Linked DNA regions of Homo sapiens. The protein of the gene in region 1 interacts with the protein of each later gene in a pairwise test. Each region holds a gene or a part of one and is shown on either strand. Other genes may lie near its edges.

What was found.
Region 2: the proteins of MYOM3 (region 1) and AMOT interact in a two-hybrid assay, tested with the Homo sapiens proteins (one large-scale study listed by BioGRID and IntAct).
Region 3: the proteins of MYOM3 (region 1) and RND1 interact in a two-hybrid assay, tested with the Homo sapiens proteins (one large-scale study listed by BioGRID).

The regions. Positions count from the first base shown.
Region 1 is NC_000001.11:24,108,226-24,113,937, forward strand, and holds the start of MYOM3 (myomesin-3), read right to left. Parts: upstream 3,911-5,712; 5' UTR 3,806-3,910; intron 430-3,805; 5' UTR 412-429; coding exon 251-411; intron 1-250. UniProt on the Homo sapiens protein: May link the intermediate filament cytoskeleton to the M-disk of the myofibrils in striated muscle.
Region 2 is NC_000023.11:112,815,851-112,820,967, reverse strand, and holds part of AMOT (angiomotin), read left to right. Parts: intron 1-1,529; exon of another isoform or gene 1,530-1,643; intron 1,644-5,090; coding exon 5,091-5,117.
Region 3 is NC_000012.12:48,855,664-48,860,393, forward strand, and holds the end of RND1 (rho-related GTP-binding protein Rho6 precursor), read right to left. Parts: intron 2,579-4,730; coding exon 2,333-2,578; 3' UTR 1,482-2,332; downstream 1-1,481. UniProt on the Homo sapiens protein: Lacks intrinsic GTPase activity. Has a low affinity for GDP, and constitutively binds GTP. Controls rearrangements of the actin cytoskeleton. Induces the Rac-dependent neuritic process formation in part by disruption of the cortical actin filaments.

The sequences.
Region 1 (5,712 bases):
ATCCCCCCGACCCTGAATGTGCTTCCCTCCTCAAACAGGGTTTCCAGAGGACAGGGCTGTGCCTCTTCCATCACATGGGGGTCTCCAGAGAGCCAATTGTGTCTCCCCCCTCAGACAGGGGGTTCAGAAAGCAGGGATGTCCCTCCCCCCATCAGGTTGGAGCCTCCAGAGGGCTAGGCTGGGCCTCCCTCCTCAGACTGGGGGCCCTGGGAACAGGGCAGTGGCTGGGCGGGGACCCTGTGGCTCCCACCTGCTGCGGAAGGTCCGCCTCCGCACAGAGGAGCCCATGCGCAGGCTGTGCTGCCGCTCCTCCTTCTGCTCCTCCTCCTGCCGGTGCTCCAGCCTGTGAACCTCCATGGCCTGGGGGGGCCGGGGGTCCCCCGCACCTCCCAAGCTGTGCGGCAGAGTCATGGTTACGAGAGCAACAACCTGTGAAGGCCAAGGTCCACGGTCATTCCACCAGGTGCCCGCCTATCCCCTCCCATGCAGTCTTCCCAACATCTCTAGGAGGCTGGCAGGATGGGGGGTGGGGGTGTCCTCTCTGCAGTCGGCAGACAGGGAAACTGAGGTCTGAGAGGGAGAGGGACCTGCCCAAGGTGACAGAGGCAGGCCTTGGGCTCTGAGCCAGGCTTCTCCTCCACCCCATGTGCTCCCCAGCTGAGTGAGCAGAGCCCCCACGTTAGGGAGCAGGGCCCTGGCTTCTAGCTGCTTCCAGCTGCAGCCCAGCCCTTGTCTCACTGTATGATCTGTGGCAAGGTTTTCGCTTCTATGGGCCTCAGCTCCCCAGACAATGAGTAATTGAAACTGTGATGTCCACGGCTGTGTCTATGACTCAGGACGGGCAGGCGTCCCCATTCTTCCTGCACCGGCCATGTTCAGTCCTACCTCTGGGCCTTTGCCCACGCTGGTTTCCTCTCCCGGCACACCCTTCCCCTCCTCCTGGCCCGCTTGGCTCTAGTCATGCTTCAAACCCCAACTGAGGGCATGCTAATTAGCAGAGAGACTCTGAGTCCAGCCCACAGGGTGTGATCCCAGCTCCTTATCCCAGCTTTCAAGTGTGTAACCTTGGGAAAGACTCATGACTTTGTTTCCTCATCTGTAAAATGGGTCTACTAACCTCCCAGGGTAGTTGTGAAGGTTAGATGAGTGCTTGGGGCTTAGTAAGTACAACATAAGTATTAGGCATTAGCATTATTTTTCTAAGAAGCCTTGCAGAAAGACTACAGGCCACCTAGAATTTTCCCTCTTCTCATTTCTTTTGTACTTATTTTCTAGCACTCCACAATTTAGCATTGATTCAGACAATGCTTTCTCTATGTAATTATTTTGTATCTGTGCATCTTGACTGTTCAACAAGACTGTAAGTGAATTAAAAGTAACAATAGTGAGAACTTACTATGTTCCATGCCCATGTTAGTTTTCAAATGCATTATCCCCAGTCCCTGCAATAACCCAAATGAGGACAGCACCATTATTATCCCATTTTACTGATGAACAGGGGCAGTACTTGCTCAAGGTCACCCAGCATGATGGTGGGGCCATGACTGGCAGCCAATCCCTAGCCCAACCCCTAGCCCTTCTGATCTCTATGTCATATGTCCATTCAAGGCCAGGCCGTGGCAGAGGCTGGGGACACGGTGGGCCACAGGGCCTTTCTCCTTATAAGGGGATTGCAATGTACACATCTCCTTTGCATTCCCAAGGCTCAAGTCTAGGCCCGTGATGGCGCCCAGTGGGGCCGGATCAGATTGACCCAGGGGAGGCTCAGGAAGCGGATCCATGGATATGGAGAGGCAAACGAGGGGTGTGGGAGGCCCGTGTGCCCGCTGGCTGTGGGTTTTTGCACTGAGTTTTCTCATATCCGGGCTTCAGTCACTGCTGGGTCTCTGAGGGCCCCCCTGATGCTAAAGCTAAAATCCCTGGAATGGCTTTCACACCTCCTCCAGGTGGGAATCCTGGTCTGCAGGCTTCTGGCATGGGAGGGTTCCTGCCCAGGCGTGGGGATGGAAACAGAAGAGGGATGACCGCCTGCCTTGGCCTGCTCCTGTCAGCTTCTGTGGGGTCAGCTCTGTCTGGCCCCTGCCTCTCTAGAGGGTCCTGCTGGAGGTGGCAGCGTGTGTGTGTGTGGGCGTGCATGTGTGTGTATGTGTGTGTGTGCGTGCATGTGTAGGCTGTCTTCTGCCTGGATGTGAACACAGCACCTAGGTGACCATTTCTCTAAGTCCATGGCATGGAAGGTGAGCCCACTGGCTTTATTGGAGAGCCGTTGGCCTGGAAGGGGCATGTGGTGGAGGTGTCTGGGGCTCGGGCTGTGGAGGGTCAGTCTTAGTGGGCTTTTACCCCTTCTACTTCCTAGAAGTTTGCTCCTTTTGGGTGTCTGCAGTTGTGGGCATCAGGAAAAAGAGAATGGATGGCTGCAGGGTTAGCTGGGACCAAGGGCTGCCCCCTAAAGCTCCCTGGGCTCCTGCTAATCATCTCAAATGACATAATGGGACAGTCACCCTCTTTGGCTTCGTATCACTCCCTCCCGATGGAAGAAGTTCTCTTTGCACCCAAAGAAGTGGCTAGCCCTGCTCATTCTGCTCTTTCTTCCTCATGGCCCAGGAGGAGAGCTGCTGGGTACCACCCTAGGTGGAGCAAGGACCCCCCACTCTGCCCCAGCTTTCCTGGGACACGATGGCCCTGGCTCCAGTGGCTGAGAGTTAACATTCCCTGGCACCAGCCACTGGCTCCCTTCCCCTGGATGCTCTGTTCCCGATTAGCACAGCAGGCAGGGGCCTGGCGCTCGTCCCTGACCTCGGGGCCTCCAGCAACCAGACCCCTGGCTTTAGCGGATGAGCTACCAATTCTTTTTAAAGCACTGACTGATGCGTGGTATTAAGCAGGGACAAGTTTGCGGCCTCACTGCCCTTTCCCAAAGGACCAGGGTGCCTCTTCCCGGAACACTGTGTGTGCCTGCGTGGAGGGGAAACTGCCCCCGCTTCCCTCTCTTGGGGTGCAAAAATCTGGGCCAGAGGTCCCACTGCGTGGCCTTCCCTATTCCCCTCTGCTTTCCTCCCAAGCCTCCATCTGCCGAGGAGGCCTCTCCCCTTCTTCAGGAGGGAAAGAGGAATGCACAGCAGTTGAGCCAAGACCCCTCCAGGAGCTGCGATGGGGGCGGATGGTGGCTGGGAGCAGAGACACATCCTGCGGGCGGCGGGTGGCACAGGCTGGGACGTGTTCTTAGCCAGTGGCTCCACCAGCTTCCGCGAGGCCGAATCCTGCCCTTGCCAGTCATGAGCTGAGGCAACTCCTTTCCCGTCTGGGCCTCGGTTTCCTGTCAGGCACTGGATGAAATCCCTTCCAGCTCTAAGATTTGGGATCCGAGGGCTCGCTCTCTTTCCCTGCCTGTGGGGTTGGCCAAGCCGGGCTCAGCCAGCTCCGCTCTAAGTTCGTGGAACTTGCCAGCTTAGCCTGGCTCCCGCTTATCGCTGCTCCATCACAGGAAAGACTCCAGTTCCCAGGGCAGCCCCCACTCTTTTTTTTTTTTTTGCAACTTTCACATCACAGACAGCTCAGCTCTCAGAAGACCCAGGGCCACACAGAACAGTGGGATGGGGCAGGGGTTTCTGGAATCCCCTCCCATTTTCACTTGGGTGCTGCCTCAGCACAAATTTCCCAGGCTCCTTTCACAACACACAACACACATACACACAAACACACACACGTGCACACACACACACACATGCACCCACAGATATCACTCCCCAGTGGCTGACTCTTAGGAGGCATCCCTCCCCCACCCTGATTTCTGGGGGTGACTCACAGAAGCAGTGTGCCCACTTAGGAGTCTCTGGGGAGAAGATTCCTGAGGCCGAGAGGGTCCTTGTTCTCTTCTTGCCCTCGGCTCAGCGGGCACCGGGAGAAGAATGCGATCCCGGAGACTGCACCGTCTTAAATATAGCAGCACTGAGACAGTACAATGACAATGGATGAGAACTATGGCATCGGGGACAGGGGGCCAAGGGGAGGGGCCATTCCGTGTCTCCAGCCTGCTGGGCAGCAGCGACAGGTGGAGCTGTCCGCCGCGTCCCCCCACACTGCTCCTCCTCTCAGCTGGGTCCTTTCTGCCCAACCCAAGCCCCTGTTAAAATGGAAAGGAGGGAACGGCTCAGGCATGGTCGTATGGAGGGCAGATCCCGTGCGGCGTTCTCAGCTGTCGGGAGTTCTGATCTGAATTCTGCCCCGGCTGACTGGGTGCCCTGGGGAAGGCGCTCAGCTTCCCTGAACTGACTGCCTTCTGAAAAACGGAGACAGTGAGACTGGGCACCTGGACTTCATGAAGACGGTGGAAGGAATATGACCTAAAAGTGAGTGTTTCGTGCTCAGAAGTTGTCACTGGCTAAAACAGCAATGTGTGGCTCCTGGTCCCTCCACCACTCCGGTAGTTACTACACGGCCCCCGCCCTGACCACAGTCATGTGTGTGTGGTGTGGTGCAGGCAGGAGGAGCTGGGGAGCCACCTACTGCTTCACTGTGCAAACTGCTCAGGCTGCCAGAGTGTCCCCTGAAGGGCCTTCTTATAGGGTAAACGCACCTGACAGGGATAACTGAAGCACGCTCCAAGAATGACCCTGTGTGGAAGACCTGAATATGTGTTCCGAGCTAAGGAATCTGGGGAGTAGCCAACCCGTTTCTTACCTACGATGAATATCTGAGCCCCCGTCCCGTCCCTTCTGGTGGAACGCTGGCCATACAGGGGATTGAGGCCCTGAGTTTTGGGTTAAATGAAGATTGCCAGGTGGAGGTCATTAGGGGATGGTGTAAAGTGAAAATGCTCTATAAACTGCATGCTGTTTGCAAGGGGCTGAGGTTTTCCTGCCCAGTCGGCCGCCACTGGTATGTTGTCCAGCCCGCCGCCCCTGGACCATTTCTGTATGTAAGGCGGTTCTCCTGTCCAGTTCATCACCAGTGGACTCTCTCTCCTGTAGGCAAGCCCCTAACAAACCCCCACGTTCCTTCCTTTCCTTCCTTCCCTTCCTTCTCTCCCTTTCTTTTTCTTTCTTTCTTTCTTTCTTTCTTTCTTTCTTTCTTTCTTTCTTTCTTTCTTTCTTTCTTTCTTTCTTTCTTTCTTCTTTCTCTTTCCTTCCTTCCTTCCTTCTTTCCTTCTTTCCCTCCCCCCCTCCTTCCTTCCTTCCTTCCTTCTCTCTCTCTTTCTTTCTTTCTTTCTTTCCTTCTTTCCTTCTTTCTTTCCTTCTTGAGTCAGAGTCTCACTTTGTTGTCCAGGCTGGAGTGCAGTGGCATGATCTCAGCTCACTGCAACCTCCGCCTCCTGAAACCCCCATGTTCCGTTTGCTGGCTATGGATCTTTTCTTTGGCCTCTCAAACCTGGTGCCTTCCCTACTGAGGTTAATAGGTGTTCGGCACCACACCTCTTCCCACCCTTTGCCCTCTCCTGCCATTCCCTCAGTCTCAATTCTTTCCCCCTCACATTCATTGGCACCTACCCTATGCCAGACCCTAACCTACAGGGGAAGTCAGGCACTTACGACAGGAGGTGATCAGGAAGGTGCACCTGGGTCGAGTCTCAGAGGATGAGCCGGTGAGGGGAAGGCTGTACCGGCCCCTAGCCAGAGAGCACAGCTTCCCTCCCTCACCCCTTCCTGCGACCTCAGGTGGCCACCCACACTACACCTGTCACTCTTGCTGGTGCCTCAGGGACTCCTCACTCGA
Region 2 (5,117 bases), on another chromosome or scaffold:
TTTTTTTTTTTTCCCTCTTAACCCAGGTTGATTTCCTAACCCTTTTCAACCTCCTCTGTGCAGCTTTCAAAGGGCAGGAGCCTATGTTCTGATCAGTGTCTTGGAACAGGAAATGGGGTAACCAACAAGGCTACTCAGGTTTAAAAGAGATCAAGAACCAGATTCCCATCTGACCAATGAAACAGAAGACCCAGGGAGGGGTTGGTCTGTTCAAGACTGCCTCACTTAGTGGAAACCCATTCAAGCCAGCAAAATATCAATGAAGCTGGGGGTTTTTATTTTGCTTTTCCCATCAGTATGGAAGAGTCTGTTGATGGGCTGATGTCTGTTGCCTTGTGGGAGGGGAGTGTGTTGGCTGGGGTGTGGAGCAGAAGCCACAGCCCCACTCAGCACACAGCCCGCCTTCCCAGGAAAGCTATTTTCAGAACTCATTCACCAGTATTGTTTGTGATCTGAAATGACTCCCACAGTGTTTGAAGCTAGATGGAAAATTATCTGCCCTTTGATCTGCCTAAATAAATAATGAGGAGCCCAAAGAGGTTTTCTTTTTTTTTCCTTTTCTTCCCATCCTGATTAAACCACCGGAGAAATTTAGCTGCATGTATTTTACAGGAAGATACATATTTTTTATCCTCCCACCTAAGTTATCTGTGGATTTCTCTTTCTTTCTGTCCTCAAAAGCAACAGAGCCCATGATGATCTACCCTTGTTGAGCAGCATTTTAATACACAGTTTTGCTGTAACAGGTTTTTCTCTATGGGAAAGGAGCAGAGTGCTTGATAATGCTTGATGAATAAGCAAACCTAAAATGGCCCTAGTGGGAGGATGCTCCATATGAAATTTGGGTCTGCATCAGGCAAATACTGGCCGTAAAATTGTTGCAGGGCCCTACATGAGGGAGTGGCACCTATTGACAAATTACTGGCAAAAGGAGGTAGTTGAACTGCTTTCCAGAAGTGTACTGCTTTAAGGTGGTGACACATTTTCCCTCCTTTATTTCCTTTAACCAACTAGCTATACAGTTTGTGAGTACCTTTCCAAGTAACTGCTGCTAGCAGCAACCAATTAGAAGACTACATTCTGAGCCCTTAATCCACAAATTACAAGTCAGGATGCAAAGCAAACTCTTTGAACAAATTGCTGTTAAGAAAACATTTGCTTGCTTTTCGAGGTGCAGTGAACTGCTGGAGATTTGCTGTTAAAATGAACAAAATTATAAACAATCCTTTTATTACTTCATCTTTCTTATGCCCTCCTCCCCTTAAAAAATAAATACCTTGAATGCCCAGAACCCCAGATGAGAAACAAGGCAAAGGCTATCTGAATAATTTTAAAATTTCAGAATCTTTGTCTTTCTAAGTGCTGAACCTTTTCTGCATCCTGGGTTTATACATTTATCAACTGCTTTTAAAAATTAAATCATTTCTGTTTATAAAGCAGCCACCTCCTTTCAATTGTTGAAATCATGCCCAGATCTGAGGTTTCTTGAAATCCTTGTTTAGTGGAATCTAAGGGTGACCTAACTCTGTAGTTCAGAGCAGAGCTGGTTGTGCAAGAGAAACCATCAGGAATTTGCAGCCTGCTCCAGGATTCACAGATTCACCGATTCACCATTGCAGAGCCTGGGAAAGGCAGTTTCTGTGGTGAGGATCAATCAAGTTCCAGGCTATTGGGTGGCACCTGCTCTGGTGAGAGTGTGTGTGCAGGATTGCACATGTGTGTGCCAGGAGTGTGGAGTGTGTGTGTGCATGCACATGTGTGCATGTGTGTGTGGCTGGGGAGGGTGAGGGCTCCCAGTCATCGAGGTGGCAGGGTGGAAGGTGCTGTGTCAGCTGGGTAGAGTGGCTTTTACTTTCCCTTTGAGTCCTTACTACTGTCTCTGGGAGGAGTGTACCCCCCACCCTACCCCACTTCCCAGCTTTGGGGAGGATCCTGATTTTAGTCACTGGCCTTTGTCCTGCATGTATGCTATGTCCCCTTTTCTGCAGAGCCCCAGTGGCCCAGGTAGCCTTAGGAAGGAGCAGGATGAGGGGACGGAAGTGGCAGGAGGCAGGTCAGGGCTTGCATGGAATCATGTGATTCTGTTGTCTGCAGGCGGCTTGTTGTTCCTGGTTAACGTGTCAGTGGGGAGCGATTCAGGCTGCTGTGTGCTGGAAGGACCTGGAGAGTGTGCTGCTCACATGGCTGCCACCTTTATTATTACTGTCATTACTTTTACTGTTATTATTTAACTTGGGGTGTATTTTGGCTTCCTCTGACATCCGCCCCCTCCAACTCTCCCTTACCCCGTCATTCCTTAATCTCTTTTTCTCACGGGGAGCTTCACCCCAGTGTTCATTCCGTCCTGCTTTCCCCTGGTGGGTGGATGCTGGAGCCCAGATTGAGTTCTTCACTGAAGGGCTTTCTCTCCCTTTGTGACTGCCCAAGCCATTGCTGGTTTGCAAACCAGCCAGTGACGGGCTGCCTTGGTTTTCCCAACATCACGGTGCACTGAGATCTGCTTCCTTTTCCAGCCTGGGGAATTGAGGGGCAGCTGCCTTGTCTCTGCTTATCTTCATCCTCAGCTTATCTGACCCCAGAGACCTCCTTCTGGAGACCTCATGGTCTCCTCCTTCCCAAGGTCCCTGGAAGGCCATGTGCTGTTGTCCAGGGAATGCAGGGGCCTTTCAGTCTCCAGGCAGGAGGGAGGCCAGTGGCTGAGTTTGTTTGAGAGAGAGGCCTGGGTTGCTTGATGAGGCCCAGGGGAGCTGTGGAGAGAAAGCCCATTTCAGAACTGGGCGTTCAGTCTTTAAAAGAGAATACCTCCCAGGCCTTGGACTGCAAATCCTGGGAACAAAAATGAAGGTTAATATAGTGATTTTTTTCCCTTAAAATTTGAGAGCTGCATTGGAGAACATGAAACTTAAGCCCCTCTTTTCTGCCCACAAAGCAGAAAAGAGACACACAAGCCCCAACAAATCTCAGGACATTATATTTTAACTCTGTAGGCATGTAGAAATTGTAATAGCTCTCATTCAAAGAGAAAAAAGAGCACTTAGTCTTTTACCTGTGAGGAAACTGAAGATCCATAGAATGGAAAATAGGAGCTCTTCACCAAATAAATGTATAAATAACTCCCAGGCTTTTGATTGAATGAGTGCTTTGAGCTCTGGGGAAAAATATTATGTATGGCAGCAACTTTCCAGTTGTACTTATGAGTACCATGTCAATTCTTCTTTGCCCAAATAGTTCGCATGCCCTCTTCAATATTCAGCAATTATTTATAATGACAGATGTATGTGATTGGAAGAATGTGGGTACACCAGAGGCATAGATGGGCCTGAGCGACAGAATCCAGGGTTTGTACAGGTTTGAGGACTCTTGGGGAAGATGTAGGTTATTGGGTATCCATGAGAAAGTGTTTGGAATGATTTTGTAGCTGTAAAAAGCCCTTATAGTTAAGATCTCTTGTAAAGATGGATACATGAACAGTAATGGTAACTGGAGTGTGTGTCTGAGGAATGTGCTTTAGCATCTGGAATGCCAGTTAAAAGTTAATTGCTCCTGGTGATTTGTCCCAGTTCCACCATGAATTTTATGCAATTTATTGCAAAGATTAAATGGATATCCTTTAAGTAACAAGCTAACAAGGTCAGCTTATCTCACTGGGAGGTAGAGAAGTGACTGTAATTCCTATTCCGCCAAAAATGAGAAGACCCCAGTATTTTTGCAATTTATTTGTGACCTCAAGAATAAAATGGGCTCATGCAGATTAAGTAACTTGCACCAAGTTACACAGCTCGTGAGCAGTAGAAGAGGTCTCCAGACTCCCTCTGTTGGGATCCAGATCCCATGCACTTAGCCATCTGTCTTCCCTGGATTGAGAAATATCAACTGTAGAACAAGTGTCCACAGGACATGGGAGCATATGAGGTTAATTGGGCATGAGCTAGGGCATGAACAAGCTTTTTGTCTTCAGTGCACACTGACAGATACTATTCCTGGTAGTGGTGATGGTGGAAGTGATCCATCCACATACTAATTGTTTCCCTTAATGGCTAATAGTCATTAGGTATGAATTATTTATACTTAGGTGTTAGCATTTTGTACCTGGTAATTAGGTACAAAAATGGGAGAGCCACATTAAACAATGTACCAAAGGTCTCTTTCTGGAACTTTCTATGAGCAATAGGTTGGAAATCTAAGTATCAGTGCACAGAAATCAATGCATTATGGCAGTAGAAAAAGCCAGAAAATGGGAATTGGGAAAGAAGGATTCTATCTTGGCACCACCACTCTAATATTTGGCAGATGACTTCCCCTTTCTGGACCTCATTCCCCATCTGTCCAGTGATAGAGTTGAACTAAATAATTTTCTTTTAAGGCCTTTCCAGTTCTTACATTTTGCGATTCATTACATCAAAAATAGTATGTTAGCATTGCTTGTAACCCTCTTCAAGTCTTTTTATGGTTACTGCTAATGGGAATCATTAAATCGTTAACAACTGGAAGCAACAATAATCATTTAGTGTCTCTAATATAAGTATCTACCAATCCTTGAATAGTTTTTTTTCTTTTTTTTTGTGAATGTATGAATTACTAAAGGGAGTTGCAGATAGCAAGATGGGGGTGGTTTTTATGGCTGTTTGTTGTTTCCATCCTGGCAAATGGAACATAGTTTCTAAACTAGGATCTTTATGTGTGCTGGACCACGTGTATAATGTCAGAAAAGGTTTAATTTAAAATAATGAGATGAAAATTACCTTGTAGAAGAATCGTTTGAAATGTTTAGACTTGAGCAAACGGGTGTACAGGTGTGTATCACTACGATTTTCACAAAGTGACCATGGAAGTTGTCTGGTTCTGACCCTCATGGGATCACACCTCTGTTTGTCAGGCAGAGGCACAGAAGGTCAGGCTGGAAAAGGGCTGTGGTCTTTGCAGAGATAGAGCAGGCAGGGTTAGACTTCCCCATAGTCAGACCCTGCCTGCTCTTCATTTTGCAGGTGTCCTGGGGGCATCAGAAGCCTCCTCATCTCACTTTTGTGTGCCCTTCTCCCCCAGTGCCTTAGGAGAGAAATTAACCCGCACCTGCCCTTCATGTTTTACAGGCCAGCGCAGGACATCTCATTGCCATT
Region 3 (4,730 bases), on another chromosome or scaffold:
CCAGGAGGCTGAGGTAGGAGGGTCAGGAGGGTGATCAGGACGGTGAACCAGGAGGGTGAGGTTGCAGTGAGCAGTGGTCATGCCACTGTACTCCAGCGTGGGCGACAGAGTGAGACCCTGTCTCAAAAAAAAAAAAAGAAAAATCTCGTAAGTGCCCCGACCCATAGTAAACATTTAACAAATGTTAGCTCTTATCATTTATGAGTCTAAATGTGATCATGTAAAGCCCTCAACACAGTGCACAGTGCTGAACACTCATTAAGTACATGCTAACTTTATTTATTTATTTATTTATTTAGAGATGGAGTCTCCCTCTTTTGCCCAGGTTGGAGTGCAGTGGCGCAATCTTGGCTCACTGCAACCTCTGCCTCCCGGGTTTAAGCGATTCTCCTGCCTCAGCCTCCCGAGTAGTTGGGATTACAGGCACGTGCCACCATGCCCGGCTAATTTTTGTATTTTAGTAGAGATGGGGTTTCACCGTGTTAGCCAGGATGGTCTCGATCTCCCGACCTTGTGATCCACCTGCCTCAGCCTCCCAAAGTTCTGGGATTACAGGCTTGAGCCACCGCGCCTGGCCTAGTACATGCTAACTTTATTTCTGGCACTAGCACTACACTATGGCACTTGGAAAACAAGAGCTATAAGTCACTGAGAAAGGAAGTTAAGAGTTAAGGCCCCTGAGCTGCCATCAGTAGGCATCGGAATTGGAAGGTCATGAAGGCAAATGTCACCTCTCCTTGAACTCAGAGGAGACCAGAATCCCAGGAGCCTCCCCCAGCTTTGGCTTAGTCTGTCCACCTTCTATGTGGGGTGGAATCTCAGCAGCTTGGATCCTCTACTGATGATTTCATCCAACCTTTTTCTCTCCTCTAGACTCTCCAGGGCAGTGGTTCTCAACCAGAATTTTTCCACAGGGGCCATTTAGCAACGTCTGGAGACATTTTTGGGTGTGATAGCTGGAGAGTGGGGTGCTGTCTTCTAGCATCCACCAGATCAGGGACACTGCTAAACATCTTGGGCTGCATAGGACAGTCCCTCACAACAAAGCATTATCCAGTCCAAAATGTCAATAGTTCCAGGGTTGAGAACCCCTGCACCCCTGCTCTCGGGCTAAGGAGCCCTTCCTTGGTTTAGTAGGTCTTGGGTGGGGCTAGGGCAGGGGGATGGGGGAAGAGAGAAGCTCCTTCTTGGAGGAGCTGGGGAATGGTGGAGGCAGCCCCTCTGCAACCCACAGAAAGGGTCCCAGGACAGCTTTTCTCTCATTATCATCAACCAAAGGGCTCAAGCACGGTGGCTCATGCCTGTAATCCCAGCTCTTAGGGAGGCAGAGATGTGAGGATAGCTTGAGCCCAGGAGTTTGAGACCTGCCTGAGCAATATAGCGAGACCCTGTTCTCCACAAAAAGGAAAAAAAAAAAAGACCAAAAAAAAAAAATACCAATTGTAACAACTAAAGAAAACAGAAAAAAATACGGAGCCAAATTCTTTATATGTATTATATTTTTCATTAATAAATAGGTTTTCTTCATTAAACACAGAACATATAACAGATTGAAACACTCCCCCCCTCCCCCCAATTCCAAAGACAAGAGTCTATAAAACAAATGCCAGCTGTACTACCCTAAGGGCAGAAAAAGTCTGGTGACCCCCACCCAGCCCTGCCCCTGCAGCACCACCACCCCCACACTCTGCAAGAGAAGGGGGTCTGGGGCTTCTCCCTTGGACCCTGGGGACTTAGGTGAGAAGCATGTGAATGTATGATGTCACCTCTCCATGAGGCATGGGCTATGCAAAGATGAGGTTTCCTTCTCATTGGCTCTGACCAGCTCCTGCACTTCCGATTGCAGTTACGAAGCACCTGGGCTAAGCCCCCAAGGGAGCTGCCGCTCCACTTCCCCACTCTCCGTTGCTGCCTCCTTAGAGGGGAAGGGAAGGGCTCAGGGACCCCTCCCATCCCCTGACCTGCATGGAAACGCTGTGTGGAAGAGGCATGAAGCTGAAGGTGAGGCTGCTGTAGGCCCCCAAGCCCATGAGGCCAGCATGCCCCCCGTCCCCCACAGCTTTCCTTCCTCTGGAGCGGGGGGGGCACTGGGGTAGTCGCCCCCTCCAAAATCTAGTGCCTGGCTTGGGGTATGATGGTTCTCTCTCAGCGTCAGGTCCTCATGCCGGGCCTGGCTCCTTCCTCGCCCCATTCCTGTCTCCTTCCAAGCCCTCACCGTGGCCATCTGAAAAACTCATGTCCAGTGTCCTAAATTGTCTCATCCTCCCTCTCCCCGTGCCTCTGCACCCCAAGGGAGGAAGTAGGGGGTTGTCTCCCCCCTCCAATTTCCACTTCACATAATGGAACAGCTTTTGGCCTTTTCCTTCTTGAAGGTAGAAGAGATGAGTTCAGAGCGACTGGGGAGGTGGAGCAGTCGTTTGGAGAGGCTTCGGACAGGGCTCTTCTGGGGCAGTGGGCTAGGCTTGTTCAGACACAGCATGGATGCCGTCCGAAAGATGCTGTGGATGCTCTTTTCTGAGGTGAAAGCTGAGCCTTCCAGGTAGATTTCTGCACCCAGCTGCTTTGCTATTGCACAACCCTGCAGGAGGGGGTGAGGGCATTAATGCAGTGGGCCAAAATGGCTCTGGGACGCTGCCTCTGTGCGTCACTCCCCAGGGCCACTCCAGAGGGGACCCAGCTGCCAGTCTCCAAACACCACCCTCTGCAGATTATTCGATTATCTTTTCTTTTTTTTTTTTTTTTTTGGCATACACCCTGTCTGATGATGCCTCTTTTTCTTAAGACGATGCCTGACTGCACATTATAAATCATCTGGAATACTCTTAAAACTATATTGATGCCAAACTAAATTAGAATTTCTGGGGATAGCTGGGGCAGTGGCTAGTGCCTCTAATCCCAGCTACTCAGGAGGCTGTGATGGGAGGATCACTTGAGGAGGCCAGGAGTTCAAGACCAGCCTAGGTGGCCGGGCGCGGTGGCTTACACCCATAATCCCAGCGCTTTGGAATTACAAAAATAAATCTCAAAAATAAAGATAATAAAATAATAATAAACACTTTTAAAAAATGTTTAAAAATTCACTGGAAGTGGGCACACAACTATAGTCTCAAATACTAGAGAGGATCCCTTGAGCCCAGGAGTTCTGCACTGTAGTGAGCTAGGATCACACCACTGCACTTCATTCTGGGTGACAGAGTAAGACCCTGTCTCTGGAAAAAAAAAAAAAAAAAAAAGGAAAAGGAAAAAAAAATTCTGGGTATAGAGCCAAGGCATTAGTATTCTTCTTTTTCTTTCTTTTCTTTTTTTTTTTTTTTTGAAACAGTCTCGCTCTGTTGCCCAGGCTGGAGTGCAGTGGCGCGATCTCGGCTCACTGCAAGCTCTGCCTCCCGGGTTCACACCATTCTCCTGCCTCAGCCTCCCGAGTAGCTGGGACTACAGGCACCCGCCAACACGCCTGGCTAATTTTTTGTATTTTTAGTAGAGATGGTGTTTCACCATGTTAGCCAGGATGGTCTTGATCTCCTGACCTTGTGATCTGCCCGCCTCAGCCTCCCAAAGTGCTGGGATTACAGGCGTGAGCCACCGCGCCTGGCCGGTATTAGTATTCTTAAGAGCTCCCCAGGTCAGGTGCAGTGGAGGCCAAGGCAGGTGGATCACCTGAGGTCAGGAGTTCAAGACCAGCCTGGCCAACATGGTGAAACCCCATCTCTACTAAAAATAACAAAAATTAGCTGGGCGTGTTGGCAGGCACCTGTAATCCCAGCTACGCAGGAGGCTGAGGCAGGAGAATCTCTTGAACCCGGGAGGCAGAGGTTGCAGTGAGCTGAGATCGCACCACTGCACTCCAGCCTGGGTGACAAGAGCGAAACTCAGTCCCCCAACCCTATGCTCTCATGCACATAAGAAATTATCCAGGGGTCTTATAAAAAATGCAGATTCCAGGCCAGGTGTGGTGACTCACAACTGTAATCCCAGCACTTTGGGAGGCCAAGGTAGGAGAATCACTTGATGTCAGGAGTTCAAGAACAACCCCGGAAACATACTGAGACCTTGTCTCTACAAAAAATGTTAAAAGATTAGCTAGGCGTGGGGCCCATACCTATAGTCCCAGCTACTAGGGAGACAGGAGGGAGGATCACTTGAGTCCGGGAGGTCAAGGCTGCATAAACAACTATTGTGCCACTGCACTCCAACCTAGGCAGATCACACTTTTTTTTCTTGAAATAGAGTCTCACTCTGTTGCCCAGGGATTACAGGTGTGCACCACCATACCTGGCTAATTTTTTGTATTTTTTGTAGAGACGGGGTTTCACCACGTTGGCCAGGCTGGTCTTGAACTCCTGACCTGAAGTGATCCACCTGCCTCCGTCTCCCAAAGTGCTGGGATTACAGGCATGAGCCACCACACCTGGCCTTTTTTTTTTTTTTTTTTCCTTGAGACAGAGTCTCTCACTCTGTCGCCCAGGTGGGAGTGCAGTGGCACAATCTCAGCTAACTGCAACCTCCATCTCCCAGGTTCAAGCGATTCTCCTGCCTCAGCCTCCTGAGTAGCTGGGATTACGGGTGCATGCCACCACACCCAGCTACTTTTGGTATTTTTAGTAGAGACAGCGTTTTGCCATGTTGGCCAGGCTAGTCCTGAATTCCTGAGCTCAAGTGATCCATCGGCCTTGGCCTCTCAAGTGCTGGGATTACAGGCGTGAGCCACCGCACCCAGTGCCCCTCCTCCT